Homo sapiens: one gene and its partners. The protein of the gene in region 3 purifies or fractionates together with the protein of the main gene of each other region. This does not show direct contact. Each region holds a gene or a part of one and is shown on either strand. Other genes may lie near its edges. The genes, in order: NBEAL2, CKAP5, YBX3, FGF12, MAP7 and ABCB7.

Evidence for each region.
Region 1: the proteins of YBX3 (region 3) and NBEAL2 purify together in Homo sapiens (tandem affinity purification; one large-scale study listed by IntAct). This does not show direct contact.
Region 2: the proteins of YBX3 (region 3) and CKAP5 fractionate together in Homo sapiens (co-fractionation; one large-scale study listed by BioGRID). This does not show direct contact.
Region 4: the proteins of YBX3 (region 3) and FGF12 purify together in Homo sapiens (pull-down; one large-scale study listed by IntAct). This does not show direct contact.
Region 5: the proteins of YBX3 (region 3) and MAP7 fractionate together in Homo sapiens (co-fractionation; one large-scale study listed by BioGRID). This does not show direct contact.
Region 6: the proteins of YBX3 (region 3) and ABCB7 fractionate together in Homo sapiens (co-fractionation; one large-scale study listed by BioGRID). This does not show direct contact.

Annotation. Positions count from the first base shown.
Region 1 is NC_000003.12:46,985,367-46,990,736, reverse strand, and holds part of NBEAL2 (neurobeachin-like protein 2), read right to left. Parts: intron 2,748-5,370; exon of another isoform or gene 2,690-2,747; coding exon of another isoform or gene 2,660-2,689; intron 2,376-2,659; exon of another isoform or gene 2,292-2,375; intron 2,069-2,291; coding exon 1,980-2,068; intron 1,896-1,979; coding exon 1,767-1,895; intron 1,653-1,766; coding exon 1,571-1,652; intron 1,478-1,570; coding exon 1,356-1,477; intron 1,227-1,355; coding exon 1,144-1,226; intron 1,069-1,143; exon of another isoform or gene 1-1,068. UniProt on the Homo sapiens protein: Probably involved in thrombopoiesis. Plays a role in the development or secretion of alpha-granules, that contain several growth factors important for platelet biogenesis.
Region 2 is NC_000011.10:46,741,230-46,745,832, forward strand, and holds the end of CKAP5 (cytoskeleton-associated protein 5), read right to left. Parts: intron 3,349-4,603; coding exon 3,197-3,348; intron 3,037-3,196; coding exon 2,794-3,036; 3' UTR 1,819-2,793; downstream 1-1,818. UniProt on the Homo sapiens protein: Binds to the plus end of microtubules and regulates microtubule dynamics and microtubule organization. Acts as a processive microtubule polymerase. Promotes cytoplasmic microtubule nucleation and elongation. Plays a major role in organizing spindle poles.
Region 3 is NC_000012.12:10,701,791-10,707,160, forward strand, and holds part of YBX3 (Y-box-binding protein 3), read right to left. Parts: intron 2,359-5,370; coding exon 2,261-2,358; intron 345-2,260; coding exon 170-344; intron 1-169. UniProt on the Homo sapiens protein: Binds to the GM-CSF promoter. Seems to act as a repressor. Also binds to full-length mRNA and to short RNA sequences containing the consensus site 5'-UCCAUCA-3'. May have a role in translation repression.
Region 4 is NC_000003.12:192,716,241-192,721,610, forward strand, and holds part of FGF12 (fibroblast growth factor 12), read right to left. Parts: intron 1-5,370. UniProt on the Homo sapiens protein: Involved in nervous system development and function. Involved in the positive regulation of voltage-gated sodium channel activity. Promotes neuronal excitability by elevating the voltage dependence of neuronal sodium channel SCN8A fast inactivation.
Region 5 is NC_000006.12:136,360,055-136,365,424, forward strand, and holds part of MAP7 (ensconsin), read right to left. Parts: intron 4,445-5,370; exon of another isoform or gene 3,946-4,444; intron 2,649-3,945; coding exon 2,396-2,648; intron 1,126-2,395; coding exon 951-1,125; coding exon of another isoform or gene 882-950; intron 745-881; coding exon 643-744; intron 1-642. UniProt on the Homo sapiens protein: Microtubule-stabilizing protein that may play an important role during reorganization of microtubules during polarization and differentiation of epithelial cells. Associates with microtubules in a dynamic manner.
Region 6 is NC_000023.11:75,148,886-75,154,255, forward strand, and holds part of ABCB7 (iron-sulfur clusters transporter ABCB7, mitochondrial), read right to left. Parts: intron 1-5,370. UniProt on the Homo sapiens protein: Exports glutathione-coordinated iron-sulfur clusters such as [2Fe-2S]-(GS)4 cluster from the mitochondria to the cytosol in an ATP-dependent manner allowing the assembly of the cytosolic iron-sulfur (Fe/S) cluster-containing proteins and participates in iron homeostasis.

The DNA of each region.
Region 1 (5,370 bases), on a different chromosome or scaffold from region 3:
CTTTCACAACCTAATACGTAGGAGGCCCACCTGGCCCTGCGCCAGCAAAACTGGACAGGATGCCAGGCCAGGGACTGAAACTCAGAGGGCAGAAGGGACTAGCCCCGGGTCACATGCCTGGCAGAGGAGGAAGAGTAGGGCTGGGGCTTGATTCCGGCTGGATGGGTGGGAGGCCTCCTTGGGGATGGGGCTTTTGAGGGGAGACCTGAGAATGCAGTTGGAGGGGAGAAGGCACAGCATGGGCTAAGACCCTGAGGTGGGGTCAGTGGTAGCAGTCTGGGAATGAGAGGACAGAAGCCAGGCTGAGCAGCAGGGCAAGTGGAGAGAAAGGCTGTGGGAGGAGTAGGATTTCATCTTGAGGACGTCAGGTTGACATCAAGGGATATGATGGGAGGAGAAATGAAATCCAGTTTGTTTTAATAACAGCACCCAGGCTATGGGAAAATAAAGTCGAGGAGCTCCCTAGGGGTGCCTCCCCTCCTGGAGTTGCTGCCCCAACTCTAGATCCAGGCCCACAGCTCCATGGGGGCATCACTGAGACATTTAATATCCCAATAGGTCACCACCTTTTCACAGCCCTGCCCACCTCTGTCCAGGCCATATCCCACCCTGAGCCTATCTAAAGTCCTGGCCAGTCTCCCTCCAATGAGAGGAGAGAGGGGACCCAGGGGTGGAGGGTCACCAGGGAGAACAGGTTCACAGGACCACCTGTGAACAGGCAGCCACAGCTGTCCTGGGCACCAGATCCTCCAGCAGCCAGGGAACAGGAGGTGGAGATACCTCCTGTGTCTCCGGGATGGGTGGAGATGCGTGGAGGCTATGGGGACAAAGGGATTGGACCAGAGAGTTTTAAGATCACAGTAGGGTACAAGTGGCTAGAAGGATCCAGGAGATGGCGGGGAAAGAGGATGAGAAATCTGGGTAGGCAGGTTGACCCCACCCCTCCACCTGATGGGAGGCCCTCGCTCCAGCCCAAGATGTCTTCTCTTGTCTCTGTCCCTAAACTCTTGCTTGGTCTTTGGTTCTCCCAGTCCTGCATGCAGCCACCACCAAGTGGTTCCTGTGTATGGCAGGATCAAGGAACGACAGGAAGGGGCCTAGGTTTGGGGGTGGAGCCAAGTGGGGGCAGGGGCGGGGCCTGACCTTGGAAGAAGGCGCTGAATTCCTGGGGCAAAGCAGCAGGAGGGAACTTGTATTTGCTCTTCTCCTTGGAGCTGATGACTTCCCTGGGGGCAGTGAGGCCAAGTACATCAGCCCGGCTCTCACCACTCCTGGCCGTCACCCCTCCTTGGGCCCAGCGCGGCCATCCTCTCCCCACCCTCCTCTGGGTTCCCTTCCTGTGGGCTGGGTCTCACCCACTGCGCTGGCGCCGCCAGGTTTGGTAAGGGTCAAAGAGGCCCTCGCAGAGAAGCAGAGCATGTAGGGCCACATTCTCCAACTGCGTGCCTCGGCCCTGGGGTGGTGGGCATCCTTTCAGCTGTAGGTGTGGGGAGAGAGGGTTAGCCCCGCCATGGCTACCGCCTGCCTCCCTGCATACACCCTCTGCCCCCCAAGGTAGAGGCCACTTCACCTCCGCCACCAACTTGGTCAACAGTGCCAGCACTCGGGGCACTAGCACTTGGCCCCGGCCTGCCTCTATGTTCTCCAGGTTCCTGGGGGAGTCAATGATGAGAGAGGTCACAATAATACACCATGCCCCTCCTTGTCCCCTCTCCCTCTGGCCCACAGTTCTAGGCCCCTGCTTGTAGAGTGGACAACAGAGACACCTGCAGAGAATGATGAAGAGCTTGAGCAGCAGGAGGGCTTGCTCCAGGTCAGCCTGGTGCAGCTGTTCGGCCAGCACATGCAGCTCATCCAGTGGTAGCAGCGGGACCTCTGCACCTGCCTCCTCTGGCCTGCAAGGAAAGGGGAGACACGGGTGCTGAGGACCCCTCAATCTCCCTGCTCTGTCCCTGCCCTCAGTGCAGATCCAGCCTCACCTTCGTGGCTCCAGAGAGGACAGTGAGATGCTCTTCTTGAAGGCACCTACAAAGGCCTTCAGCCACTGCTGCAGGTAACCCAGGTCCTTCTGTAGGCAGAACAGGGGAACAGTGGTGGGGGGCAGGAGGGATGCAGTAAACAGGGCAGGGACAAGGGGATGTAGACAGAGGCGAAGAATGAATGGAGGTGGACAGAGGGCATGGACAAGGGGTTAAAGGCAGAGTGGAGGGTGTGGAGAAGGGGAGTGGGGGACGGGGGAGGGAGGGCAGGACATTGGAAGGTCAGCATCAGAGAGTTAGGTACATACTGACCACTTTTCCAGGCACCCCACTGCTTCTCTCAGCCTCCCAGTTTCTGCTCCCACCTCCCTAATGCCTGCAGTCCTAGGCAGGTCTGACACAGCCAGGGGAGGGGCGTAAGTGGGGTGTGGCTGTGGCCCACACTGGTGCTAGGGCTGGAGAAGGTGTCCCACACAGCAGCCACCCCCTACCAAGAGCCTTGGGCTGGGTCCTCATCTGCCATCTTCACCCAGCCCAGCAGCCACCACCTTCAGTAGCCTTCTTTAACTGTGGATCCCAGGACACACGTGTACCATTAGACAGGCAGACCCAGACATGCGCACATCCTCATGTGCGGCCCTGCCTTGCCCCGGGAACCTCCACCCACCCTTGCTGGTTACCTGGACCCCAGGCCCCAGAGCTGGTTCCATGGGCAAGAGGGGCAGTGGCTAAGCCCAGGTCTAGGCGCTGCCAGGAAAACTTTGGTGTGAACGGGAAATGTCTCCTCCCGCCCCGGGGCTGGGGCAGGAAGCGCAGAGTCACGGTGGGGGAGGGGGACCGCTTCCTCCCGGCAGACCGCAGGGATGTGGGGGGGCCGGGGCACCCTGGGCCCCAGTGAGAGAGGCTGCAAGCGACCTGGCCTGCACAGAGGGTGGGACCTGTTACAGAGGGGTGGAGTCACCTGTCCTGGGTGGGGCTTGTGGGCCAAGACTAGTTTTACAAGCATGAGGTTGGCGCCTGGAAGAGCTCTTATCCAGGTGAGGGTTCTGATCCTGCTGCTGCAGTACCCTTCACTTAAGGCACCCACAGCTCCCTGACCTGCGCGCAAGGCCTCAGGCCACAGGGGTCGATGTAGAAGACTCAGCCATACCTTTGTCCCGCCCCGCCGCCCGCCATGTCCTGGCCACCTCATCTGAACTCTGCAGTTCTCTTCGCTCAGGAACACAGCTGATAAATCCTAGCCTAGCCCGTATCTGCTCTAATCTCTAAGCCCCTCCCAGGGGCCAGGGGTGGGTTGTGGCTTATACAGGAGCTCCTCCAGGCTGGCCCCATATGGAGCTCCTAACCAGCTGAGTCCAAAAGGCAGCCTTCTTTCCTAGAGTCAGAGAGGTGGACAGGGGGAGCTAGAGTGGAAAAGGATGAAGAGGCAAGGGACACATCACAGTCAGCACTCAGCAGGCCTCAGGCTGCTCCCCAGGGGCCATGGGCCTCATACCCAAGGACCTCCAGAACTATCTTTGGATGGATGGCTAATTTTTGCAGCCTATGGGCCCAGACCACGGGCAAGGCCTGAATGGCCCCAGGGCAAGAGGCCTGACTGCAGCAGACCTGAGCCAGATCCCCAAAAAACCTAGGCAGAGCAGCCGTCCACCCTGTGATTGGGGAACTCCCTGGTACAGTTTAGTGCAGATCTGAAGCCCAGACAACTCAGAGAGGTGCCAGGGCCACCATGGTGCAGACCCACACAACCATGACATTTTGTCTGTCAGTTACATTTATTGACCTCTCCACCCTCTCCTGCTGGCAGCCTCCTCCCGAACAATCAGCAAGGAGCCCAAAATACCCAGATCCTGAGACAGCAGAGGTGGCCAGGGGCCCTGGACCATTTCTTCTGAACCTCTCCCATTGCAGATGGGGAAACAGGAGGCCCCACAGGGGATGCCTTATCTACTACTTTGTCTTCAGTGTACCTTTGAGGATGCTAAAAGCCAGACCTTAGTTCTAGGCCAGGACCACTCATGATTGCTAGCAAGCCAGCCCATGAGGACCATGCGGGCCCCGATCCTTGCCTCAGTGGCCCCACAGAGACCCCTAGCTGCCTTCAAAAATGTCCCAATACTGTCTTCCTCTCTTCTGCCCCTCAGTCAAGCTAGTCACTCAAAATGTGAGTCTTCCTGCCAGCTGCAGCTCTACTGAGCACCTGAAAGCCCAAATTTGACCGTGTCTAACCCCTCCCCATAAAGGCTCAACTGCTGAGCAGCATTCCAGGCTGCTGGTCCAACCAGAACCTGCTTCTCCAGCTTCCACCTCTCCCCCTCTGTGGTTCACATCCTCCTATCCAGGCCTTTTCCCACCCTATGCCCCACTGCCTTGTGTGACTTGGGCTTTTGGTACTTGAGCAGGAACCTCCCACCCTCCTGGTGGCCATCACCTTGATCAGCCTTCCCAGCACAGGGGTGGGTCCCTCAATCTCTACATACTCCTAGAGTATGTAGATAGTACTTTCTGTCCCTAGAACCACACCCTTGGCCTGTCCAGTCCTGTAAACTTTCAGCAGATTGGGCTGAGCTGGGTTCAGGGCTGGGACAATCAAGACAGCCTTCAGGGGCTCTGAAAGGGGATGACGAGGTCTCCAAAGCACAGTATTAGGCAGGGGTGGGGTGGCTGCCTGTCCTGCCTCCCTGGGTCTCACTGTTTCTCCCTGGAAGACCTCAGGCCAACTCTGACCTAGGCCCCATGGCTTGAGACTGCAATGTGTCGGGGTACGGGAGTCCCTCAGGGAGCCAGGGTCAGAGGGCAGAGAATGGCAGGGGACGAGAGCATGGTGGCAGTGCTGCATGTGAGGGTCCAGGGCCTGGGAGGAGTGGCCATGATGCTCAGGCTTCCCATGCCCCTCTCAGAGCTTCTGCCTTGGTCGGTTGTGCCAGCTCTGAGCAGGAACACGGGTCAGGGACAGTCCAGCCCCTTGCCCCAACCTAACTGGGTCAGGGCCCCAACCCTGTCCCCCACTGAAGGCAGGTCGGGAGCAGCCACACCTGCCAAGCCCTCTCCAGGGTCCATAGGTAAGTGATGCCCAGGTCCTGCAGCAGGGGAGAAGGTTGTGGGAATGTGGAAGGCCGGTGTCCCTGGGAAGAGGGGGTCTCATGTGCACCACCACAGAGACCCCAACTTATGCCCAACTAGCTGTGAGGGCACTTGAGAGTGCTGGGGGTGAGGGGCTCCCGAGGGCTGCTTAGGCTCAAACAGTCCCTGGGTGGGCATGGAACTGCCACTCCTCTGGAATTCTGAAGTAACCTGGAGGGCTGAGGGCTGGTGGTTGTGACATTGGTGGGGAGTACAGGGAGTACACCTTGTTTGCCAAGCTGACAGGGATCATTGAGCTGCCTGACAC
Region 2 (4,603 bases), on a different chromosome or scaffold from region 3:
GGTGCCTTAGCACAATGCCTAGTGCCTAGTAAGCTGTGAATCACTACCACTCGTATTCTCACTATTGCCTGGGAACTGGACCGGGCATTGGGCCTGTTGAAAGTTCCTCTGCCGCTTACCTCGTCCCTCTCTTGGGCCCTGGAAATAGCCCATCAGTGGGGTAGTTGCTTCCTGGAATGTTTCCTCACACAGCAGTTCCCAGCTGGAACAATTTATTTTTCCAAGAAATGGGACCTCTAAGTTATAAGAGTCATGGGCTGGGCATGGTGGCTCACGCCTGTAATCCCATCACTTTGGGAGGCTGAGGCTGGTGGATCACCTGAGGTCAGGAGTTGGAGACCAGCCTGGCCAACATGGTAAAATCCCGTCTCTACTAAAAATACAAAAACTAGCCGGGTGTGGTGGTGGGCACCTGTAATCCCAGCTTCTCAGCTGCTTGGGAGGCTGAGGCAGGAGAATTGGCTGAACTCAGGAGGCAGAGGTTGTAGTGAGGAGAGAGGCATGCCACTGCATGCCATCCAGCCTGAGCGACACAGCAAGAGTCCCTTGCAAAAAAAAGAATCATAGAACTTCAAAGATACCCTTTCAGAGCACATTCTTCACGGTTACTGTTGGCAGAGGTCACAGGTGTGGGATGGAGCATGGCTCCGTCTTGAGAAGTCTCATCCATGAGCTCAGGGAAAGAATGAAGATCAACGTCTGCCTCAGGCACAGGATAGTGGAGTGGAGCAGGGAAACCCTGTGGCTACAGTACCTGGCCTAGGATCTTCTAACGTGGTTTTCCACGGGAAGGGACCTGAGATAGGGATCTTTAGCACCCTCCTCATAACGTTTTTTTTTTTTTTTCTCATTTTTCAACACATCAGAAAACAAACAGGACAGAGTTCCTTGGCCTCATTCTTTGGTTCTGGTTGACTGAAAGGCAGTGAGCTTGCAGGATTTGGCAGCCCAGGGCATCAACTCGATCAAGGGGGAAGGGATTCAGAATTACTTGTGACATGCAGGACCTGCTTTTTAAACAAGAACACACATTCTCATAAGTCTGTTTTCTTCCGACATAGCGGTCAGTGTTGTAAGCTCTAGGGACTTGGGTTTTTCCAGTCAGCTGTGCTAATTCCAGACAGGAGTACAGCCACTCTTTTTTTTCCTCTTCTTTTGTTTCCCTCCTCTTTTTTGAGACAAGGTCTTGCTCTGTTGCCCAGGCTGGAGTGTAGTGGAGTGATCACGGCTCACTGCAGCCTTGACCTCCTGGGCTCAGGTGATCCTCCCACCTCAGCCTCCCAAGTAGCTGGGACTACAGGCTTGAGCCACTATACCCAGCTAATTTTTGTATTTTTTTGGTAGAGCCATGTTGCCCATGTTGGTCTTGAACTCCTGGGCTCAAGTGATTCACCCACCTTAGCCTCCCAAAATGCTACGGTTGTATGAGTGAGCCACCAGGCCCAGCCTTTGTAGCCATTCTTTCTAAATATGTCTTTCCACTATAGCAGCAAACGCCTCCATCATCCCTTCAGTGAACAAATACCCACTCCCATGTTCCCACTATAAAGGAGAGACAAGTTTAATTTCAGGAGGCTCCGGGGCCACCTGAAAACGATGACTGGAACCTTTACAGGATTAATCTTCCATCAATCTTTCATTTCTTGGACATCAATTGAATTGAAGGTGGGCTACAATAGGAAAGTTCCTTTGAACTTTATAACTGCCCAAAATCTCCTCCTGAATCCAGAACCTTTTCATCCTGAAGAGTTTTTCTGACTGTGGAGGGAGGTCCTGTGGAATTTATTCCAGAGGTGAATACTCAGCTCACTTTCTCATCCTTACTCTGACTGAATGTGAAGCAACTGTTAGCCTGGACCAAAAGAGACTCATACAACCAAGCAGCAAACCACTAAGATTTCCCAAACTCCATTAGTCAAATGAACACAAATCTAGTTGTAGTGTGAGAACCACTGAAGCCCAGCCAATCTCTGGGCGCAATCTTGTGTGCCTTTGGTCAGCAAAGTGGTAGGATGCCCAAGAGCTTCTTGAAACGACTGGTGATAATTGGAGGGAAATCATGACCAAAATCTCAAAACAAGGAAGGATGAGATTTTTCTGCTCCCTAGGAGCTGTTTGTGGAGAGCAGGGAAGGAGAGTTCCTTCCATTCCAAAGGAATAAAAGACAGCTCCAAGTCTGTGAGCCAAGAAAAAGGGAAGCTCTGTAAGCAGTAATTAACCTTTCTCTAACTGGCTGAATACCCAGCTGGTACCAAAAGTTAAAAAATTGCTGCCCAACACTCCATGATATGGAGCATCTTGGGAGTCAGGTATAGTTAATGCAAACTTTATTTATAAAAGACTCTTAAATTAGTTGTATCATGCCATGCATTCATACAGAATACAGTGACCCTTCAGGGCGACAGAGAAGAGCTCACAAACTGAAAGGAAAACTATTAAAGAGTTTCTAATATTAACTATTAAAAAGCTAGGAAAGATTAGGACAATTTTACAAATGAGCAATTAAAAAGAAAAGAAAAGGATCTGGGAACTAGACTGAGCAGAGAGGGGGCAGCTGTTTACAAGTCTGTACACTAAACTCATCCACGGACAGTCTTCTAGAGCAGCAGGACGCTGACAGAGAGAAGCAGAGTATGTACAAATACTTGTGCCACAATGACTCCTCCCCCTAGCTCCACGGCATGATACATACAACCAGTTTGTATACACTAGGCCTGCTGAGGCCATTTTAAACTATGAGGACTTCTAGTTTAGTAAACTAAAGCTGCAGGGTGCCGGGGGAGTGGGGCAGCTTCATTTGCGACTGCTCTTTATTCTCTCCAGTCTTTTTTTCAAGTCGTCTATGTTAGCTGTGGAGGAGGAGGAGGTCACAGTTCCTGAAGAGTGAGTCTGGTTAGAATCCAGGTCTGAATGCTGGTGCTGCTCCCGTGACTCCCGGAGCTGAGAGAGTTTGCTGTGGAGCATGTCTGTGGAAGAGGCGACAGTAGGAACTGCTGGTTTGGAGAGCAAAGAGGTCAAAGGAGGTCGGTCATCTTGCTATTGAGAGAAGGAGAGAGATTGTCTAAGGTCAGGTCAAGCAGGTCAAGATGCAGCTCCAGAACTACAGCAAGACTAAGCCACTTCTCTGTGGGCCAGCCTGCCTCGGACCTGCTTGTGACTACCCTCCCTGAACTGCACAGAAGAAAAGGAGCAGTACCTTTGTGTTGTCCAGACCACATCGCTGTCGGAGGATCTTTAGCCTTTCCAAGTAGACAGATGGCCCCACTTCTTCCCCATTTGTGTTACCTATGGAGGACACTGTGCTTGTGGGCGTGGGCACACATGTGACTTCCATCTGAGGGGAGATGCCTAGAGGGGAAAAAGTAGAAAGAATATTCAGATATCCACATATCCCCCTTCTAAAGTGCCTTGGTTAATCTCCCACCAAAAAGAACAATTAAGAATTTCCTATACTTGAAAACGACAAATTCCACAAGAATCTACCTGGAGTTGGTGATAAGGGTGCTCTGAAATATACAATATAAGCTTCTTGAGAATGCAAAAAACTGATATAGAAAGGCAGAATGTAAATTGGGTCATCCATCTGCATCCTGGGTTATGCAGGGGATTGTACTCCAGTAATCCCAGGGCTGACTTGGGCAATCCAAAAAGCTGAAGCTACTCCTAAGCATACTGTAATTGCCCAACTGAAAAACCCGAGGACCTTAAATGTTTGGAAGAATTAGATTAAGTTTGGACCAATGTCACATAGGAGAAACTCATTTGAACCTGTGAAGGAAGCAAGGTGTCCAAGGCTATGGTGTATTCATGGGGAAGAGAAGGTGTCCAACAATTATCTAAAGAGGGCATAGAACTGGAGTGTCTGTAACCCTACCACTAAGATCAATATTCTGGCAGGAGAGAGGAAAACCAAAACAACAAAAAATCCATCACACTTCCTAAATTTCTGAGAATGAACAATGATACAATGCGGGCCTTTAAAATATTTCACTTGGTATCAATGCAAATGCATTCCACAGGCCCCAAAGGTAAGGTACTGGGAGGAAACACTGCCTTATGGTAAATAGAAAAGTAGAAAGGTTACTCCAGGGAAAAAGGACTCCTTTAATGTAAAGATGAGGAGAATCCTCTGAGGGGGTGAAAAATGAATGAAGAATTATGTAAAAGCCAGCAATATGAGATGTCTGAATACTCTAAGGCACAAAATCAATTTAATAATCAGTGGGAATACATGCTTGGGTTGCAAATGTGCTGTTTAGGCCAAAATTATCACACGTTGAACATCCCCAAAAAGGGCTTTGGAAACAAGGATAGGATGCCTGCCCTGATCAAACCATGGTATGTTTACATGTGGCATACTGTTGGACATTCTGCACACCACACTTTAACTCCTAAGAGGTCTTTTTCATTAAAGACCAGCCTGGGCAACAAAAAGAGACCCTGGCTGGGCACAGTGGCTCATGCCTGTAATCCAAGCACTTTGGGAGACCAAGACAGGTGGATCACTTAGAGGTCAGGGGTTCAAGACCAACCTGGCCAACATGGTGAAACCCTCTTAAAAAAAATTCAAAAATTAGCTGGGGGTGGTGGCACACACCTATAA
Region 3 (5,370 bases):
TGTGGTCTGTGTTATGTACAAGGCATACCCTATATATATGGATCTTGAGCAAAATGTTTTTATATTTGTTAAGTGTCAGGTTTCATGTGATAAAACCACTTTTAGAATGCTAAAGTCTGACATGATTAAAGACTATCTGGCAACATCCGCCCTGACTGGTTGGATTTACCTCTTTGCCATCTTGTGAAGGAGCGTTAGGAGGACGCGGGCGACGCCGGTAATTGTAGGGACGCCGGTATCCACGGCGAACAGACGGCTGGTTTGGACCACTGGTGGCTTGCTGATTTTCTTTATCTTCAGCCTCTCCAACTGCTGGGGCAGGTCGTGGGCGAGGAGGTCCCCTGCTGTAGGGAACACAGAAGAAAATAGAACAGGTGCCAACAGGACAGGGCTTCTCCAGAAAATAAGGTTTTATTTATTTTTAAAAATTAAAAAGTCAAGTGATCAGGGCCAGGCATGATGGCTCACCCCTGTAATCCCAGCACTTCAGGAGGCTGAGGCAGGCGGATCACTTGAGGTCAGGAGTTTGAGACCAGCCTGGCCAACATGGTGAAACTCCATCTCTACTAAAAATACAAAAATTAGCCGGGCGTGGTGGCACATGCCTGTAATCCCAGCTACCTGGGAGGCTGAGGCATAAGAATTGCTTGAATCCATGAGGCAGAGGTTGCAGCAACCCGAGATTGGCACACTCCAGCCTGGGTGACAGAGGGAGACTCCATCTCAAAATTAAAAAAAAAAAAAAGTCAAGTGATGAGTACTTATTGCTAGAATTATTCGCAGGTCAATGCAACAAATGGAATAGAGGTTTCACGAAAAAAAAATCTTAATTTTCCATCATTTTCCCCTTTCATTTGAATACATATTTGTAAGGAACATACATATACTGAACACATACTCTGTTCCTATCAGGCCCTTTGATAAGCACTAAGAATAGGAAAATTAAAAAAGAAAAGAAGAGTAGTCTGGTATCTGCCTTCCATGAACAGAATTTAGCAGAGACTAAGGGAATTAAACATGAGAAGAAACATTATTATGTGCCAGAGCCTGTGCTAGTCGGTTTTAAAATTAAATATTTAATTTGAATGGTAATTCTGTGGATGAGATTTATAACAAGAAAACCAAGAGGTTTACATGATAAAGTATACGGCTGAGCTATATAAAAGTGCTGCTTTTATAGGTTAAAAAAGGTCAAATATGACTTTCCAAGATCACATATCCAGGGACTGACAAAGCTGAGCCTCACACGCTACTGAATCCTTTTTGTTCCAGTAAGACATTTCTATGCCGTCTCTTTTATTTTCAAAGTCCCTAGTACTTAATCATTAGTGATTATGCCTAAAGCTGGAGGGAACCTTGTGAAGAAAAAGGATACGATCCTTTTACAATTATATTGGTGGAATCCTTTCCCAATATAATATACTTTTTATCCTTCAATAAAGCCATACTGACAAATTTCAAGGTAGCATAAACATCATTCAGGAAGAAGTTGTAGCTTTTCCACTTACCACAAAGGGTAAGATAAAAGAATGGGCAGGCTTATATTATAAAATGCTTCAAAGGGATCTTATGGAAGGAGTCTAGCCTAATTCAGTCTTCCAAAGGAATAAAGCACAAATAGAATAACCCAGCGTTCACTAATATTAACCTCAATGGTGGTAATAATATCTAATACATAGTGAGGCCTTTACTTTATCAGGTACCACACTAATTATCTTAGCTGCATTAGTACCTTTAATCCCCAACTATAGAATATCTCTTTGTTTTCAGACAGGGTCTCACTCTGTTGCGCAGGCTGGAATGCAGTCCAAGAACATACATCTAATGAACTGTAGAGTAGGAAGATAAATTCAGGCGATTTGATCATACCCTGATTTAACCCCTCTACTGGACTGCCTCAGTGATTAACAGTCACTATCCCAAATATCCTCTGACACTCAATTCTTCCTCCATCTGCAGCATTACCACAGAATTGCCCACCAATAATTTATCTGATTTATTTTGATAAAAATTAAGTATTAATTTACATCTTATTATAATTCCAGAATACAAAATGACGCTTTGGCGCAGAGATAACTAAAAATTCTAGTATTAAGTAGGTGGGAAATGTCACACCACCACCTGAAAACTCTGGCATGTAGTCAAAGCATTCACATCTTCTAGATATATAATAAATCCACAAAACGGAACCACACAGTCCTCATTCTACCATTGTGCACACAAGTCCTTTAACTGGCCATTAGTGGAAAATGCGACATACCTACGGTACCTTGGGCGGTAAGTTGGATTTCGATGAACCGGTCCCTGAAGTTGTGCTCCCTCTGGGACTCCATCCTTCATCTCTCCAATCTCACCAGCCTGGAGAGGCAATGAGAGCTGACAGTGAGTGTCACAGCACAGGGGATAAGATACAGTGCATACAGCTATGTTCAGAATTTTTTTTAGAAGTAAAAAACAAAATGCTTCATTACAAAATTAGGCACTCTCAGTTGCAACACAAACTATTTATGAGTAAATCTTCGTGAACGACTGAAAAGGAAGACAAACCTAGTCTGACTAGAATACTCATTTGCTTAGTCCCAGAGCACCTAACTTTATTTTCGCCTATCAATTTAACATTTTGAAATCGGATACATTTCATTCATCTCTTTAAATAAAATACTCTTTTATTTTTCTTTACAACAAACTTACTTTAAGCCAGTGGAATAAAATTAACTTATTGTACAACTTCCAGGGGAAAGAAAGAACAACTTAAAAAAACAAAAAAACCCACCAACAATGTCTGCAATTCTTGACCATACAGCCATAACTCAACTTTCTTTTCTTTTCTCAAAACATCCCTTCCTCCCCCTAAGAGCCAAATACTGTCCTTCATTATTTCATCAAGAAAGAGAAACAGTCAGAAGACAATTTCCACGTTCTCATTAGCAAATCTACCCAGCTCCCTGTATTTACATTAGAATTTTCTTCTCTCCCATTACCCTGGGTAAGTGGTCCAAGTTCATATCTGAAACCAACAGCCTCTCTATTCTCATCAACTAGACACAGCATGTTAACGCTATCCCTTCACTATGTTTTCACCTTTTCTATCATTTCCATCCAAGCATATATACCCAGTGAAATAGCACCCATCCTTTTCAATTTTTTAAAATTTTGAAATAAGCACAAAGTTACAGAAAAGTTAAATGTAATTCTCAGATCCCATTCAAGTTTCACCATTTATCCCAATGATGCCCTTTATAGCAAAAACACCGTTTAGAATTATGCACTAAAGTAAGTTATATCTTTTTGTTTGGAGCAGTTTTTTTTAATTTATTTATTTGAGATGGAGTCTCACTCTGTCGCCAGGCTGGAGTGCAGTGGCGCGATCTCAGCTCACTGCAACCTCTGCCTCCCTGGTTCAAGCGATTCTCCTGCCTCAGCCTCGCAAGTAGCTGGGACTACAGGCATGTGCCACCACTCCCAGCTAATGTTTTGTATTTTTAGTACAGACGGGGTTTCATCATGTTGGCCAGGATGGTCTCAATCTCTTGACCTCGTGATCTACCCACCTCAGACTTCCAAAGTGCTGGGATTACAGGCATGAGCCACCACGTTGGTTTTCATGACCCTGATACTTCTTTAAAGATTACAAACCAGTTATTTTGTAAAATATCCCTCAACTTGGGTTATTGGTGTTCACTAATGATTAGATATTGTTTTTGCATCCCCAGGGGGATGTCACAAAAGTGACACTGCATTCTCCTCACTGCATCCTGTCAGGTGGCATATAGTTTCAATTTGTGCCATTACTGATAATGTTCACTTTGATAAGTGGTTAAGGTGGTATCTGCCACCAGAGTCCTCCACTGTAAGTTGACTCTTTCCTTCTTTGTAATTAATGAGTACTTTGTGAGGAAGTACTTACAAAGTGCATAAATATACTATTCGTTATCAAATTTTTCAATATATTGGTTTATTTATTTATATTTGTATGGACTCATGGTTTTCTATTTTTTTCAATGAGTTGTAATCTGTTACTATCATTACTGGCCAATGGGAACCCCTTCAAGCTGGCTCATATCCTATTGATGTGTTTCCAACATTCTTTGAGTACTTCTTCGCTTTCTGGCACAACAAGATGTTCCAGGCTCATATTATACTTTCTCTGTCCCAGCTCTGAAATCAGCCATTTCTCCAAAGGGAATTCTTTTTGTTTGAGAATGTTATTTAAAAACAAAAAATTGGGGGACAGGTATGCTCAATGCTGTTACTAAGATATCACGGCTTTCAGGACCTTTCAGTAGACAGAACCATGGAACACACACACACAATGTTACACATATATGTGTGTCTATGTATGTGTGTATATATATATGTGGGTTTATGGCAAACACACGTGCCTACCTTGATCTGCCCATTTAATGGCTTTAGAAGTTGTTGGTGAGGTAACGGGTAAGGGAGAGACCAGGGGTAACTCTGCATTGTAAAAAGCAAATCAAATCAAGCAAAAATCTTGCTCTGATCCCTTATCTTCTTCCAGCTACTACCCCATTTCTTTACAGACATACATACTAAAGAAAAACCAAACACCATGACCACCACTACAGAAACCTCAATGGGGAATATGTCTCCTCTTCCCGCCCTTTGCTGTTTCTTAAGTTCATTCTATTTAAACTTTTGTCTTCACCAAACCACTGACCTCCAAGTTACCAAATCTAATAATCAATTCTCAGCTTAATCTCTACTTATCAACAAGCATTTAACACATTTCTTTCTTGAAATACATTCTCCTTGGCTGCTCCTTCTCACTGTCCTTTGCTAGACAATCCTCATCTTCCTAATCTTTAATCGTTGGTGTGTCCCAGAACTTGATCCTAGGACCCTATTTCCACCTACACTCACTTTATAGTTAATATCATCCTGCCCCTACGGCTTTAAACATCCTGTTTTATAACTCCAAATCAGCCAGGAGCGGTGGCTCACGCCTGTAATCCCAGCACTTTGGGAGGCCAAGGCAGGTGGATCACAAAGTCAGGAGATTGAGACCATCCTGGCTAACACAGTGAAACCTCGTTTCTACTAAAAATACAAAAAATTAGCCAGGCGTGGTGGCGGGTGCCTGTAGTCCCAGCTACTCAGGAGGCTGAGGCAGGAGAATGGCATGAACCCAGGAGATGGAGCTTGCAGTGAGCCGAGATCGTGTCACTGCACTCCAGCCTGGGTGACAGAGTGAGACTCCATCTCAAAAAATAAATAAATAAATAAATAAATAAATAATTCCAAATAATTATTTGCAGTTCCATTTCTCCCCTTCAGACTCCCATTCACGCCTTTCCTGGGACCTGATGGACTTGATCCCTTGCTCCATTTAGGTCTCTTCTCAAATAC
Region 4 (5,370 bases), on a different chromosome or scaffold from region 3:
AGTTGGAAAACTGGTCAGAAAGTTGTCCTTACGATTCTGACATAAACAATGCAATGTTTCCTGGACCCAGCCAACAACGTCAACATCCCTGTTAAAATAGTCAGGTTCTTTCTTCTGAAGAAATTAGACTTCATTGTAAGCCAGATAATGGGAAAAAAATAGTAAAACTATGATTTAAAAAATCAGTATAGGAATCAATTGATGTCACTGCCACTCAGTTTTTATTGCATAATTTAAAACGAGTATATCTTAACTACATTGTTTTAAACTGCATACCACAGCTGCATGGCATTCTCTGGTTCCAAACAGATAAAAATGAGCAAAATAAAACTAGGTAAGATGAAGAGGAATCTTAGGGATTTTAAGGAAAGAATCCAGCCCCATACAGAAGCAGAGGAAGTAGTAAGCCTAAGGGTCAAATGCTAACAACAAGAATAACAACAGTAGCAGCTGTAATTATTAAGTACTAATTTTAAGCTTGGTTCTTTATATATATTTTCCTCGTTTGTCTCATTAACCTAGAAAGAGCGTCATTGTACAAATTAGGAAGCAAGGATACAGAAATATATCTTACCCAAGTTACAGAGACTAAAAAGTTGTTAGTTGTGTGTTTGATTTCAAGTCTTACGATCTTTCTACCACACCACTGAGCTGCCCAGGTAAACAGAACAGTTATTCAATGTGAGGGTTAGAAAAAGAAGCTGCAACCCAATGCTTAATTAAGCCCCTAGGGGTGGAAGCCAACTTAAGGCACATAAGAGCAGTGGGTTCTTTCTTGAACCCACCTGATAACAGGCAGGAAGGCCCAGTGATTCCTCAAGTCTGTATCTTATTGGCCCAGGGCTTGAGTGAGACTAAGCCTGCAGAGATTGGGTATTCTGAAGGTTAATAAAATCTGTACATACACAGTGGGACTAGTTTTTCAGTAACAAAGGAAGGTTGATTGGCTTATAAGACTATACTAAAGTATGCCTTGGGTGTTAAGTAGTGGTTAAGCTCATAGACTCTGAAGCCAGTCTGCAACTTACTAGCTGTGTGACCTGGGCAAATTACTTAACATCTCTATGCTTGACTTTTCTCATCCCTGAAATAGGGATGACAATAGTGCCTGCCTCATTGGGTTTTTATGAGGCTTAAGTGAGTCAATATATGTAAAGTACAGTGCCTAAACATAGTAAAAGCTGCAAAAGCATTATTTCAAAAGACTCAGTTATCTTTCCAAATGTCCTTTCAATGTTTGACATGAATAAAGCATGAAAGCATGAAGAATAAAGAGCTTTTTTAAGTTTAGCTGGATCTGTTTAAGTTTATAACTGAACCCAACACCTATTACAGTTTTTTTCCCCATAAAGCATAGAAAGAAAATCTGCTTTATGGGAAAAAAACTGTAATAAAATATGTGAAAAAGGATAAAACTCCACTTATAATTCAATCGTCATTATCCAAATATTGTCACTTTTTGCATAATACAATCTACTATTTGCCAATGACCAAATTTTACATTATAATTAGTGCATATATCCACATGTACTATTTTTATAATTACCATTATGTCATAAACACTTCTGATTATAACCCATGTTCATAAACATGTTAATGGCTGTTAGATATTTCCCTTTCTTTTATTCTTCGCATAATCAAGAAATTCAGTTTATTAACCATGAAACCCTTAGACCTTGGATAGCTTTCATCTGGTGGTAGAAAATGCTTCTTCTATCTAAAATGATCAGTAGCCAATCAAACATTGGAAGACATAGTTATTGGTTTTTAAATTGTTTGAAGGCAATGAAGGATTGAGTGCAATTGTTTTTTAGTAATATATTACTAATGATTGAGAACTAAAGAAAATCAGACTTCCTATCAATAATGTCAGTAAAACACTCAGCCCTTGGACTGTTTGTCATTATTCTGTTAGTCTTTCTTTTTTTTTTTTTTTTTTTTTTTTAGCAAGAAGGTGCTGGTTAGGGCTGGCAGAGAGAAGAAAACCATATCCACCAAATCAACTTCACATATGACTGTTGTATAAATAAACTCATCTTAATTGTAAAGAGGACACATATGAGGGTGAAGAAAAGACGTTATAAAAACATAATGTACAATCTGCTAAGCAAAAATGCCATCAAGTTCGCCAAAAGAGATAGGAGAGAACAAGCAGCTGATCATAAATCTTTAAACAGAATGTATCCACTGTAGTTCCTATATAAACACTTCACAAATGCTGGTTCTTTCAATCCCAGAAGTGAAAAGAATCTTGCCTCTAATCCACTCTTGTTTTGCAGATGAAGAACAAGGCCATAGAAAGAAAGCCACGAGCTCAAACTGAAGATGGGGCGGGAATTAGGATTCAAATCCAGGTCTCCGGATCCCCAAGACAGCGTCTTTTCCACAAGGCCACTGCAGCCATCCATCAATTTAGACATGAACCTGTTACCTATGTGGTCACAATCATGCCATATACAAACTTTAGCCAAGTAGCACTTTTTTCCTCTTAGTGCTTTCTCACTCAGAATCAAATTAATTCCTCAATAAAGTTATAAATCCAACAACTTCAGTTGCACAATTCACAGCATTAAAAAGCTAGCTCAAACCCACACTGAGTCCTTAAAATTTGATGTGGTAATTATGATCACCCTGTTTATTTTCTGTAGAAGTTAAGCCTAAAGAGGATCAAGAAAGAATACAAACAAGCTTAAAATAACAATTTCTTTGTAACAAGAAAATAAAAATCAATAATGGGCAAACCGAGTTAAAAAAAAAAAAGAGAGAGAGGTTTAGTACACTGAGGTTCATCCATGGAATAGAAGAACGAGAACCTGATCCCAGATCTTCTAGCATTTAATAGATTAGATTAGAATAATCTAAGTAGTCTGTTAGATTAATACATTAGAATATTAGTTATATTTCATTGGAACATGCACCATGTGTATTTTATGCCTCAGTGTATCACCAGAGTATACAATGTCATAATTCCACCAGTGTGCATACTACAGTTAGAAAAGCTCAGCCTTAGAACAGCTAACAAACAGCAGGTTCTAAGGAAATACTGCTTATTGAATCAATCAACCAATGGTCTCATTTTAAAAGACTGGCACTGATTGGTCTGTGCTATTGCTTTAGTTGTCTCCTTCATGTTTACGTTATTGTTATTGAGGGTCTTGCTATATTTGCATAATCGTTTGTTTTTTATGCTGATGCAAATCAAAGCCCATAGTAAAAAAGTACTCATTTCATCTCATGTTAAGTTATTTGTAGGCTTGAAAATAAAGAGTGATTTACATGAAAACCTTTATCTTGATACATAGCAAATATTTCTCTTTTAAATCCCAGAAGAAAGAAGTAAACCAAATTCAATTTTAAATAGTGCTAGAAATGTTGAACATGTTTTGAAATGAAGGAAAAGCCTTTAGATAAAATGTGTAAATAGTCTAATTTTAAATTTTCCAGATTTAAACAATTAGAATGATCATATAATAAATCTTATATAATAGTCTTGTTTGTAGAGTATCTAACCCCAATTTATTATAATATGTGAAAGAGACTAAGGGCAAAAAAAAAAAAAAAAAAGAAAAACAAGAAAAACAACCCAACACATTTTGAAGCAGGAAGCATATCTAGATTTTTCAGTTCCCAAGTATCTGAAAAGAAATTTCCCAAATTACCTGTGTTGAGGTTTGTTCAATCTGTTAGAGTGCTATCAGTACTGGAGGATTCGAGGAAAACCTGTTTCACGTGGGTGATAATTGTAGAAGTGAATGAGGTAGGGAGAGATTGGCATTGCTGCCTCTTCCTGCCTGCTTGGTAAAGGACTCTTTGGTGCATTTAGTTATCTTCTGAACAGCCTCTGAAAGTTTCTGGATTCTTTTTCTGCAGTCTAGTCCCTTTGGGTTGCTTCTCAGGCTAATGGCCAATCCACAAACAAGAAAGAAACAAAAACCTAACCACAGAATGGCAGCATGCCTTTACTTCTATCACGTAGTTTAAAGTCCCACTTTCAATTATGTGTGCTTTTTCAATCATTAGTAATGGGGCTTGTTTCAGGTAAAAAGCCAGGCAGAGTATGCGCTAAAGAAAAAAGAAAAGATCTGTGAAGGGGCAACAGGTGTCCTTTGGGACTTCTGCCTAGGTGCCATCAGCAGCATCGCAGCAGTTAAATACCACGGCCTCCCTGGGTGGGAGTCTCACATTCCCAAAGACAAGGAGACAGAGACTATTTCAAAAAGTAACTGGAGAGATGAGAAAGCTAAAATTAGAACTATTGACATAGATCCTTAAAAAATCCTACCGTGCTCTGCATGCAAGGATGCTAATAAGGAGATGAGGAAGATGATGCTGGGGAAAATGGCATGTCATCTTAGCCTCAAACTCTTGCCATCTATTTTGCATATCTATTTTCAATCCCAAGTCTGTAGTACAGAAATGAAATCTCTCTTCTACACACACTCTCTTAACACTAAAGAGGGTGGTAATAAAAGACAAGGCCCAGGCAGTAGAAGTCCTATAGTGCTCCTGATAAAGAACACATGTATGTGTTATAGTTTCCTAGTAACCATCTTGGAGCTTATCGATGGATTCATAATTGAGGACATACATCATCACCTGAGTGTTTCTTAAATATCTGACTTGCAGGTATTACAGGATGTCTGGTGGTTCTGAGATGTACCCCGATTAAGACCATTGTTAGTGGCCAGAATTTACACAGTTTATGTTTTAAACCCATCCAAGGTGTAATACTTGACTCAATATATCTCCATCCCCAAACCCATAAGATGTAGAGACAAATTCAGGTGTTGGAGACGTTACTATTAAAACTGTAGAATAAGCACACAAGAAATCCCTTTTGGTAAAGTGAAGTTTTTGTGGGAGTTAATGAAGGGTGATTTATTGAGTGTCGTGCAGTATACTTGCTGCTAAAACTACAAAAATGGCAGAGGACCAATTTCTACCATCCAGGATCTCACAGTCTAGTGTAAAGAGAGATACAGCTAAAAATGATGAAAGTCAGATTATAATTCTAAAGAGTTCTAAATACTTTATTAGCATGAGTTTTATTTCATAATCATGATATTATGGTACAGCACTTGGGATGGGTATAAGAATTTTTATTTTGCAGAGAAACAGAGGTAAGATGAGTTGCCTAAGTCATTTAGTCTTTATGATCCTTTGTTTTGTTATCTATAAAATAAAGTTAAAATGCCAAATCACAGGGTTTTAAGGGAGATTGTATATATTAAAAGCCTTTTGAAAAAGTACAAAGTGTTTCACGAACGTTATTTATGGGTGTAAATATGTGACAAATCAGGAAACCCAATATTAAGAGATGCAATAAACCATTATTGGTCAATCAGTAGCACAAAACACCAAACCTAATAA
Region 5 (5,370 bases), on a different chromosome or scaffold from region 3:
AAGAAGATTAGACACAGAAAAAAAGCCAGCCTGGCATATTTAACTGATGAAATAGATTATTTAAAATGGTCTGTTATTTTGGAAAAATACAATATGCACTTTTTTTTTTTTTTTTGAGATGGAGTCTTGCCCTGTCACGCAGGCTGGAGTGCCGTGTGGCAAGCTCTCAGTTCACTGTAGCCTCTGCCTCCTGGGCGCAAGCTGCCTCAGTCTCCCAGGTAGCTGGGATTACAGGCGCCCGCCACCACGCCCAGCTAATTTTTACATTTTTAGTAAAGACAGGGTTTCACCATGTTGGCCAGGCTGGTCTCGAACTCCTGACTTCGGTGATCTACCTGCCGTGGCCTCCCAAAGTGCTGGGATTACAGGCATGAGCCACCCGGCCCAGCAGTGCTGCTTTGTCTTAACTGGGGTTATTCAAGAAAGTTGGAACTGCCTTAAGCTACATGAAGTGGAAGTAAGTGTTTTTTGGTGACGGCTAAAACACCGAGAGAGATTTCTTTGCAGGAGATTGTTATCACTGAGGGGGCTACTAGTTTATGTGGCAAGGGTAGAACACGCGTTTTCTGACGGCCAGGGCTAGTCTCTGGGTCTTAGAGGTGCAAGTTCGCGTCCCGGGCCTCTCTACTAAGACGCAGCTACCTTCTTTCTCTCCAGGCGCTCTTGCTCTTCTCTCTGGAAATGCTTCTCTCGTTCCTGCCGGACCCTCTCTGCTTCTTCACGAACGCGAGCTTCTTCTTCTTTCTGAAAACAGAAGGTCGGCGTCTGCCTCTGACAAACAGGCGGGCTGCCCGGGTCTCCCAGGGGGTGCCCAGAGGTGGGGGCGAGGTGGCGGATGGAGAAGGTGTGGAAAGCGGGAGCACCAGCAGTCCAGTCCGCACCCTCCTCTGCTGGGCTGGGGCGTCTCCCTGCGGGACTGGGGCCGGGGCCAGGGTGGGGTGCGGCCGCACCTGCCTCTGGGCGCGCTCTGCCTCCTCCCGCTCGCGCAGCGCCCGCTCCTCCGCCTGCCGCTGCAGCTGCTCCTCCTTCTCCCGGGCCTGCTCGGCTTCCAGCCTGCGCGACTCCTCCTCACGGCGAGTCGTCCTCTCTTCAGCCACACGTTGAGCCAATTCCTCTCTCTTTTGTCTGGAAAAAGACAGAACAAAACCAAAACCAAAGACACCTGAGGAGAAATCTTTGAAGAGAGGCCTCCGTCGGTGGTTCTGTAGGGCGGTTCCTTTAGGCGTCCAGTAGAAAAATCCCCACTGGATGCCTTCACCACTGCTAAGGGACAAAGCGCGAAGCCACCCTTAGACTTCCTCCCGCCTTGCCAGCTGCATTGCTGTCCGTGCTAAATAGAAGCAACGTGTAACCACCAATATCTTGGGGAGAGCTGGCTTTTTGGAAGGAATTTAACTATTTTTTAAAGGCTCTGACTTGTTTAATTCAAATAATGTGACTTCTTAGTAATGAATTTGAAGCACCCCAGCCAAAGGGAATCTTTGTAAATAAATAAGGGTCACAGTGTTCTGTCACAGGACAGGAGGAAGACAGCCATGTAAGCTCCCTGTTGGAGCCAAGGGAAAGGCATGGCCAAGATGGCGGTCCAGCGAGTGCATGAGATCCTTCCCCAGGGTACAGTTGTGTTCGTTTGAAGAACAATTATATTGACATTCGTCTTATTAGGCCCAGAAGATGACCAATTAAACAAACTGTTTCTGGAATACTGCCTGGCAGGCAATCATGGGGCATGTAAAGATCCCACCTGGCTACCCTCCGAGAGGAGTTTTATCTGGAAAGGAGAAAACATGAACCCTTATTATGCAGCCTTAATGTGATAATTACAAAGATAAAACGGAAACCTGGAGATTGGAGATGTGTTAAGTAAAAAAGCAGACTGTACAATTGTACCTCTGCTGTGGTTATAATTATGTAAATATGTATATGTATGTATATATACACACACACTCCCATACTGTTGAGAGACTAGAAAGGACCACCCAAAATGTACACTATTACTGAAAATTGGTATGATTATGGATTTTTTTTTTCTTTAAAGCTTTCTCCATCAATGTTGTTGCACTGTCATTAAAATAAGAAAACATGGCTGGGCATGGTGGCTCATGTCTGCAATCTCAACACTTTGGGAGGTTCAGGTGGGAGGATCCCTTGAGCCCAAGAGTTTGAGACCAGCCTGGGCAATATAGTGAGACCCCATTTCTATTTAAAAAAAAGAAGAAGATGTGATTTAAAAAACAAACTGCTTAGTAGTCATAGGAAAATTAGGTAAGAGTAATCCTGAAAGAACTAATCCATTCACTTTCATCAGTATTATCACCTCCTCCCTCTCAGAGGGGTGATGAGTTAATCCAAAGTATCACTGACACCATGGTGTGGAGCAATGTCTCCCATTTACCTTTCAAGCTCTTCCTGCTCCCTCCTCTCCCTTTCTTCCTTTTCTCTCTGCTCTCGGGCCAGCCGCCTCTTCTCAGCTAGAAGCCTTGTGGCCTCCTCTGGGTCGGTGGTGCCTGCAGAAGTCTTAACAGAAGCACTGGCATTCACAGTGGATGACGGGGCTGAGACCATGGCTGGGGTGGGGACCGGGGCTGGAGCTGGGGCCGAGGCTGGAGCTGGGGCCGAGGCTGGAGCTGGGGCCATGGCTGGAGCAGCTGCACAAATAGGTACAAGGAGAAAACCAGTTGGAAACAAAATCCAAAGAACAAAACCAAAACTAGCATTCCCCACATCCAAGGCCTAGAATTTACCATTATGAAAGAAAAGGGAATGTTTATTACTGTGTGTTCTCACGGTTTCACTATGTTCTATCTGTAACCAAGCAACAGATAAAAAAAATCAGTATGTGTAAGTAAGACATCCAACAAAGCTGACACTCTGTCACCAAGTCTTATTTTTATACCAGTTAAATCAGTTAACATATATTGAATGTGTACAAAGCCTCATGTTAGAGTCTGTGGGGAGTTATACACTGAGCAAAAAGAAGATGAGATCATCCATTTGTCTTTTATTGCATTTGAAAATTCCTACTCTTCGGTAACCATTCATTACTAGAGCAGCATCCTCAGCATCCATGCCATGAGTCCAGATTCAGCCTGGGAAGATGATACCCTATGAAGAGGACCCTTTTGTCTCCCCAGAGCTGTCTCTAGGTCTGAGATGGGAGGAGCTCGGGGCCTCTTTGGGAGCTGGTGCTCATTCTGCTTATATATCCCAAGCTGCCAAGATGCAAGATGGGAGCAGAAGTTCTCTGGCCTTACTCGGATTTAGGAAGATGACCTAGAGAGCTGGTGCCCCAGAAGCCCCACACTGATGCTCACAATTCTGCACCACAGTGAGCAAGGCACCAGCAAGTGCAAGCTCTGGCCCCTGGCTGCTCCAGCCCCTCCTTTTGAGAGTCACATTTCTACTTCTGCTTCCACAGACTTTTCTCGGCCATCATGATGCTCTAGCCCTTCTTTCCTTCCTTTTTCCATGGAAACAAATACTGGACTCCTCCTTTTTCTAACATTTTAACCTGTTTTGAATCATCTCTTCTTTCTTTGCCCCACCCTCTATCTTCAAATTAAGTCTTTTGAATGAAGACAATTCTCAACTAGAAATATTGAATTCACAGCTCCAGGTGGTTTTAAATTTCTAAATAGCATCTGGCTAGCCTGGCAGAGGTGAGAACCAGTGGGCCTTCTGGAAAAAAATTCTGACTTCTATCAAGCACACAGGCTATACCAGGGGTCCTTAAACTCCAGTATGCACAGGAATAGCATTGCCAGATTTAACTGGCCACCCTGTGTTCTATCTGGCAACCATGTTTAGGAATCAACTGACAAGCTTAGTATCTTTCAGAGTCCTCATATCCACCACTACATATTCTGACTTAGTAAGTCTGAGGTAAAAACCAAGGGTCTGTATGTCAAAACATTATAGATGTGGTGGTTTAAAAATATTTCCAGTTTTCCTCAGCTGCTGCCAAGCTGCACTCGGTCCCTCTGAGGAATGTAGGGCCACATTGAAGTGGAACCCTCACTTCATCTGGCAACTAGCACCTTGCCTGGCAGTGCCAGCCCCACACTTGCTCACACCATGGCCTCTGTTTCTGAGCTCGCCTGCATTCTGCATAAGGCTCGGCCCTCATTCTGCATGAGGGTGAGGTGACCGTCAAGGAGGATAAGATCAATGCCCTCATTAAAGCAGCTGGTGTAAATGTTGAACCTTTTTGGACTGGCTTGTTTGCAAAAGCCTTGGCCAATGTTGACATGGGGAGCCTCATCTGCAATGGAGGAGCTCGTGGACCTGCACCAGCAGAAGGTCCTGCCCCCTCCACCAATGCTGTTCCAGCTGAGGAGAAGAAATAGAAGCAAAGAAAAGAGAGTCTGAGGAGTCCAAGGAGGATATGGGCTTTGGTCTTTTTGACTAAACCTCTTTTGTAACAAGTTCAATAAAAAGCTGAACTCTTAAAAAAAATTCTTTGAAAACTCTCTCTTCAAAAGTTGGAGACTATGTTTCTCCTTGAGTGTGAGTTCCACCTAGTGACTTGCTTCTACTTAACAGAATGTGGCAGAAACATTGGTGTGCGACTTCTGAGACTGGGTCATAAAATACATTGTACATTCCTCCTCATTCTCTCTTCCAGGTCACTCACTCTGGCAGAAGCCAGCAGAGCAAGCAGATAGATGAGGACATTCAGCAATAATATGGAGCGGTCCATGTGTGGAGAAGCTGAGGCCACCCGCCCCCGGCCTTGTATGTAAGCCACCTTTCAGATCTGGTTGAGTCTTGAGATGACTGGAGCTCTAGTGGACAGCTTGACTGCAATCTCATGAGCGGTCCTGAGCAGGGACCACCCAGCTGTGCTGCTGCCAAATTCCTGACCCAAGAATCCATGTGATATGATAAATGTTTGTTGTTGTTTCATGCTGCTAATTCATTATGCAGCAATAGATAATGAATACAACAGGTGATTTTGATGCAGGTGCTCTGAACACATTTTGTGAAATGGACTCAGCCAATAAAAGCACTGAGAACCTACACCTGAATTCACGTGTTTGTGGCTCTATCAATAGGCTTTTGGATGTATGATTTGAGATTTACATTTCTACTTCTGCTTCCACAGATTTTTTTCATGGCTATTATGATGTTCTATGACCCTCCTTTCCTTTCTTTCTTTTTCCATGGAAGCAAACACTGGACTCCTCCTTTCTCTACCATTTTCACCTGTCTTGAATCATCTCCTCTTTCTTGCCCCACCCTCTATCTTCAAATTAAGTCTTAAGTAGAAAACTTTGGAATGAAGACAGTTTTCAACTAGAGATATTGAACTTCAAGCTCCAGGTGGTTTTACATTTCTAAGTAGCATCTGGTTACCCTGGCAGAGGTGAA
Region 6 (5,370 bases), on a different chromosome or scaffold from region 3:
CATGCACAGTTATTAAGTCACTACAGTCAGAGTAGTTGAAGAAAGAGTTCATACTTAGCAAACATTCATGCACTCAAAAATATGAATATATTACAATATTATAGTATAAGTTACTCAAGATCAGTAAAAACAATTTTATAAGTAAACCAAAATCGAAGCTTCACCTTGTCTTTTTCTAATATGCTTTGAAAAGCAGAAGTTTAAAAGTTGCTCTCCCAAAACATCAGCACCTAAGGAACTATACCCTTAGGATGCGGTTTCCCTACTTTAATATCCATCCCTCTCTAGATATTGTAAAGAAAACTTAATCAGAGGACTAATGAACATCCCAAAATACAGTGTGCAGTTAAAATTTCTACAAACAGCAAATTTTTATATCTTATTCCTCAAAGAATGTTATCCTGTAAGTCACTTTATCTTAGCAAATGATGCTCACAAATAAAGTAACTCAAAAATTTTAGGATAAAAAGTAAGTGTGCTTTGGTTATTGAACTAAAACTGACAACAATCAGTGATGCTACTCCACCACGGTACCATATGCCTAATGACAGAAATGCAACGGACAAACTTATGAGGTTGCCCTGAAGAAAGTTAGCTTTCAATTCCAAATGTATAGCAGTGGAGCAAATATTATTAATTATTATGTTAGATTTTTGCTTTGGTTTGGTTATAGAGTTTAATCATTCATTTTACATATATTTTCTGATTACCTATTACATGTAACATACCGTGCCTAGCTCTGTGGAAGATAAAAACAAAAAGATGATTGGAATATATTAGCATTTTAGGCACATAAAATCTTATCTCCTCCACAAGATACATAACTACTTGTAGGAAAAAGTGTTGTAGGAGTTCAGAGGAGGGAGAAATCAAAGTCTTATTAGCTTATAAGGAATGGTTTCAGGGAACGGACTGACCTTTGAACTAACATTTGAAAAATAGGCACCAGTTAGAGAGAGGGCATTTCAGACATAGGGTGTGGCATAAAAAAAAGAACAGACACAAAAAAGCACATGGTCCAAGGAACAGGGAACAATATAGGGTGACTGGAGGGACAGGGTATTTGTAGAGAAACAGTTTACAATATGGCTAGCAATCTAGTTAGGTGGAAATTTTTAAGGCTAAGATATAAAGCCCACTGAAGTTTATGCAGGGAAGTGATGGGATAAAAGTCATGCCTTAGGAAGAATAATCTAGATGTGCTGTATAGGATGGATTGAAAGGGCAAGTCCCTGAAAGCAGGGACAAAACCCATGCATAAAGTAATAAGGGTCTAAAACTAGGGCAGAAGTTAAGGGACTGAAAAGGACAGAAGAGGCCATTGCTACTACAAAGAAATGTTCATCTACCTAACCGGATTACTGTGAAGACCAAATGACATTAAATAAAGACTTGAAAAGTATCTTTACTCACTAGTGGCAAATCCTACAAGGGAGTCAAGAGAGCACAGATGAGGACTTCAGGGAGATGGATTTCAGGAAAGGAAGGAGAAAATCAAAACAACAAAAATATCACATTTTGCAGGTAACTATATATACCTATTAACATTACTAAAATCTTAAGTAATTAAAAGACCTAATTTTGGTCAAGACTGAGCACCAAGAAAAAAAATGCTCACAAGTAAAAACAGAATTTAAAATTATCCCAATAATGTAAAAATTATGTACATGAAAGAACAGAGATTCAAAGGAAAAAGGAAAAATTATTTAACATGTGGGATTGTAGATATCTGTCTTGACGTTTTTATTAGATGTGGTTTTGTATAATTAAAATGGGGACAATGTAAAGCATAAGAATCGTATACAGAATGGGCAATTTTATCTCTTATTATATACCTTATTTTACAATATGGGAAAGAACATACTTTTCTTTGAAAAAGCAAAATCTTTAAGATAACACTGACAACAATACAGCAATAAATGATATTAATTTTATAACAATTGTATAACAATAATTAAATGATCAATTATGCATTTATCATTTAATCAAAATTTTGATGTAAGTTTCCACTCTATTTCTACCCCGCTGCCCAGTGACAAGTGCTCTTTATCTTGCCACTGGCTACTCAGGAACACCATTAGAAACCCACCAGCCAGCAATATTGTATTAATCAGGGATTACTGACTGGAAGAGGGGATAGGTTTCTGATTCCCCTGAAATTGCATGCAAAATGAAGCACATACGTATGTATATTTTTCTAGGGAGAAGGTCTATGGCTTTGATCAGATTCTCAAAGGGCCTCGTGTTCTAAAAGAAAGTTTAGAAACATGAAATTTTCTTCCTCTTCCTAATAATCTTAATAACTAGTTAAAACCAATGTGTCAATGACTTAGAGAATGTTATTTATTCAACTATATCTGAAAAAAGAATCCCCTGAATTCCTCTTCTCAAGTCCCAGTGCCACTTTCCATTCCTTACCATATACAGCCCATGTAAGGTATATCTTTATTTACAACTTTTATAGCATTACTGTTATTCTTCACCACCCCTTAGAATCTATTTCTACCATCCCAGATGATTTCGGAACCTAGCTTACTTTTTCCTCCACACTACTTCCATCCTCCCAACACTACCAAATACTAAGCTCATAATTAAATTACATTTTTCTATTCCTACTCTTAGATATACAAATATGACAAGAACAATACAAATTTGTCCCATTAAAAATTCATGTGAACATAAACTTACCCTATGTTGCTCCTGAATACTACACCAGTAGTAAACTAGGATCACAAAGTAGAGGTACTATATAAAAAGGGCTGGTCCTAAAGGATTACAGTAAAGAAACAAGAGAGTTGCAAGAAACCTTAGAGATCTGGTAGTCAAATATTACTAGTTTACAGGATCTGATGTCCAAAAGAACAAGTTATGTGTCCAAGATAATTAACAGTACAAATAGAGCTCAGGCGGTCAAGTGTCCTGGTCCAGTGTTCATCCCACAATACCAAGTTATGCCCTTTGCACACCAGTTATTTCATTATTTTTAACATTTAGAAATAAAAATCTTTTAAGTCATCTGTATTTTCTTTACAGTAAGGCTTACTCCTACCTCAAGACCTCTTAATAGTATTCAATATCATTCCTTCCAAGCTTACTGTGTGAGAACAATGTAGGGGACAATTAAAAGCCGTGTTGAAATCAAGATAGACTGTCACTCACTCATATGAATAATTGGTTTGGTATGTCTTGCTCTTTTCAAAACCAAGCTGGCTGCTTCCTAACAGCTCGTATTTTTCTAATGACAGCAAATTATTGTTTAATAATTTTAAAAGTCTTTATTGGTCTCCTAATAAAAGGACTATGCTTTTAACATTTGTGTCCCCCTAAAATTCCTATATTGAAACTTAATCACCAATGTGATGGTATTAAAAGGTGGAGTCATTGGGAGGTGATTAGGACTTGGAGAGTAGAGCTCTCATAAACAGGATTAGTTCCCTTATAAGAGGGGCCAAAGAGCTGCCTTGTCTCTTCTACCACATGAGGACACAGCTAAAAGGCACCGCCTATGAACCTCAAGACCTCACCAGACACTAAATCTGTCAGCACCTTGAACTGTGAGAAATAAATTGCTCTTGCTTATAAGTCATGTAGTTTATGGTATTTTGTTATACCAGCCCAAACAGACTAAGATAGACTATTAGTCTAAGAAATTATTTCTCATATGCACATTAAATCCCTCTTCCTGCAAATGAAGTCCACATCTTTGTATCATAACCTAATGTTCCAGTTAAGTTTAGGCATCACTGAACTACAAATAACCCCTTCAGGTCCTTTTTTTTTTTTCTTTTTTTTGAGAGGAAGTCTCGCTCTGTCGCCCAGGCTGGAGTACAGTGGCGCGATCTCGGCTCACTGCAACCTCCGCCTCCAGGGTTCAAGCAATTCTCCTGTCTCAGTCTCCTGAGTAGCTGTAGTCACAGGTGCACGTGACCATGCCCAGCTGCTTTTTGTATTTTTAGTATGGACGGGGTTTCACCATATTGGTCAGGCTGGTCTCGAGCTCTTGACCTCAGGTGATCCACCTGCCTTGGCCTCCTAAAGTGTTAGGATTACAGGCATGAGCCACTGGGCCAGGCCGCTTCAGGTACTTTAAATGTCACTGAATCACCTCTCACCCTTTTCAGTTCCATGATCTATAATCCACTTAAAGACACCCTTATTTCTCTTGTAAGTTCTGTTTTTGTTGTTGTTGTTTGTTTGTTTGCTTGTTTTTGAGACGGAGTCTTGCTCTGTCGCCCAGGCTGGAGTGCACTGGCGCGATCTTAGCTCACTGCAAGCTCCGCCTCCCGGGTTCACGCCATTCTCCTGCCTCAGCCTCCCGAATAGCTGGGACTACAGGAGCCCGCCACCATGCCCGGCTAATTTTTTTTGTATTTTTAGTACAGACGAGGTTTCACCATGTTAGCCAGGATGAATAAGTTCTGTTTTCTATTCTTTTAGTATATTTTGGGACGACTGTTGAATAATCACTGTAGTTTCTTCATAGGCATCTTATATTGTTAAATTTAAATATGAACTAGAACCTCTAAAATATAGAATAGGAGGATTATTTCCCTAGTGTTGTTATTATATTCCCACTTCAGTTAATATGAAAGCCAGGAGTAAAGTATTTTAATTTTTATCTACTCTGCTAACTCTTAGCAGCCAATGGTGGAAGAGTAGGAAGGTGGAACTTGCTACTGGGAGAAATTAAAGCTCCCATTCTTGGTCCATGAGGTCAGACCAACAAATGAAAACAAAACAGTACCTATCCAAAAGAACTACCATATTCCACAACCCAGGTCTAGGGCATATACTGGGTGAGAAATACTTACAATGAATTCCAGTAATCACATACATGTGGGACTGTGTGTGTGTGTGTGTGCGTGTGTGTGTGTGTATATATATATATAAAATATATATGTGTGTGTGTATATACACATAAAAGTTCATGAAACAATACTTCACTTAAGATGTAAAAAGCACTGCTATTTTCTTTATATTCTACTGAATTTCATCTAAAAAAGTGCTAATCCAACCCACTAACATTATTTCATAACACTGCTCTAAGGTTCCTTTCAGCTCTAAAATATTATGCTATATACTAATGATCGTCCTAAAAGTATGAATTCAGTAATTATTTTGTAATCTTAATCACAAGTCACAAATTTGCAGGTACCTCAGGTTACCTCAGCTTCTACTTTGAAAACTTTGTAATCATTCCTTTCTCACCCTGTTTTAAAAAAAGGATGGCAAGAGTTCCATGCCTTTAAGAAACAGAAAACAAAGGTAACATCTTTCCCTTGTTTTGCACACTGAGGAAATGGTAACTAAAGGAAATGGTAGGATGTAAAGGACAGAGTGGAAGAAGGAAGTTGTGGAGATAGCGTTCAT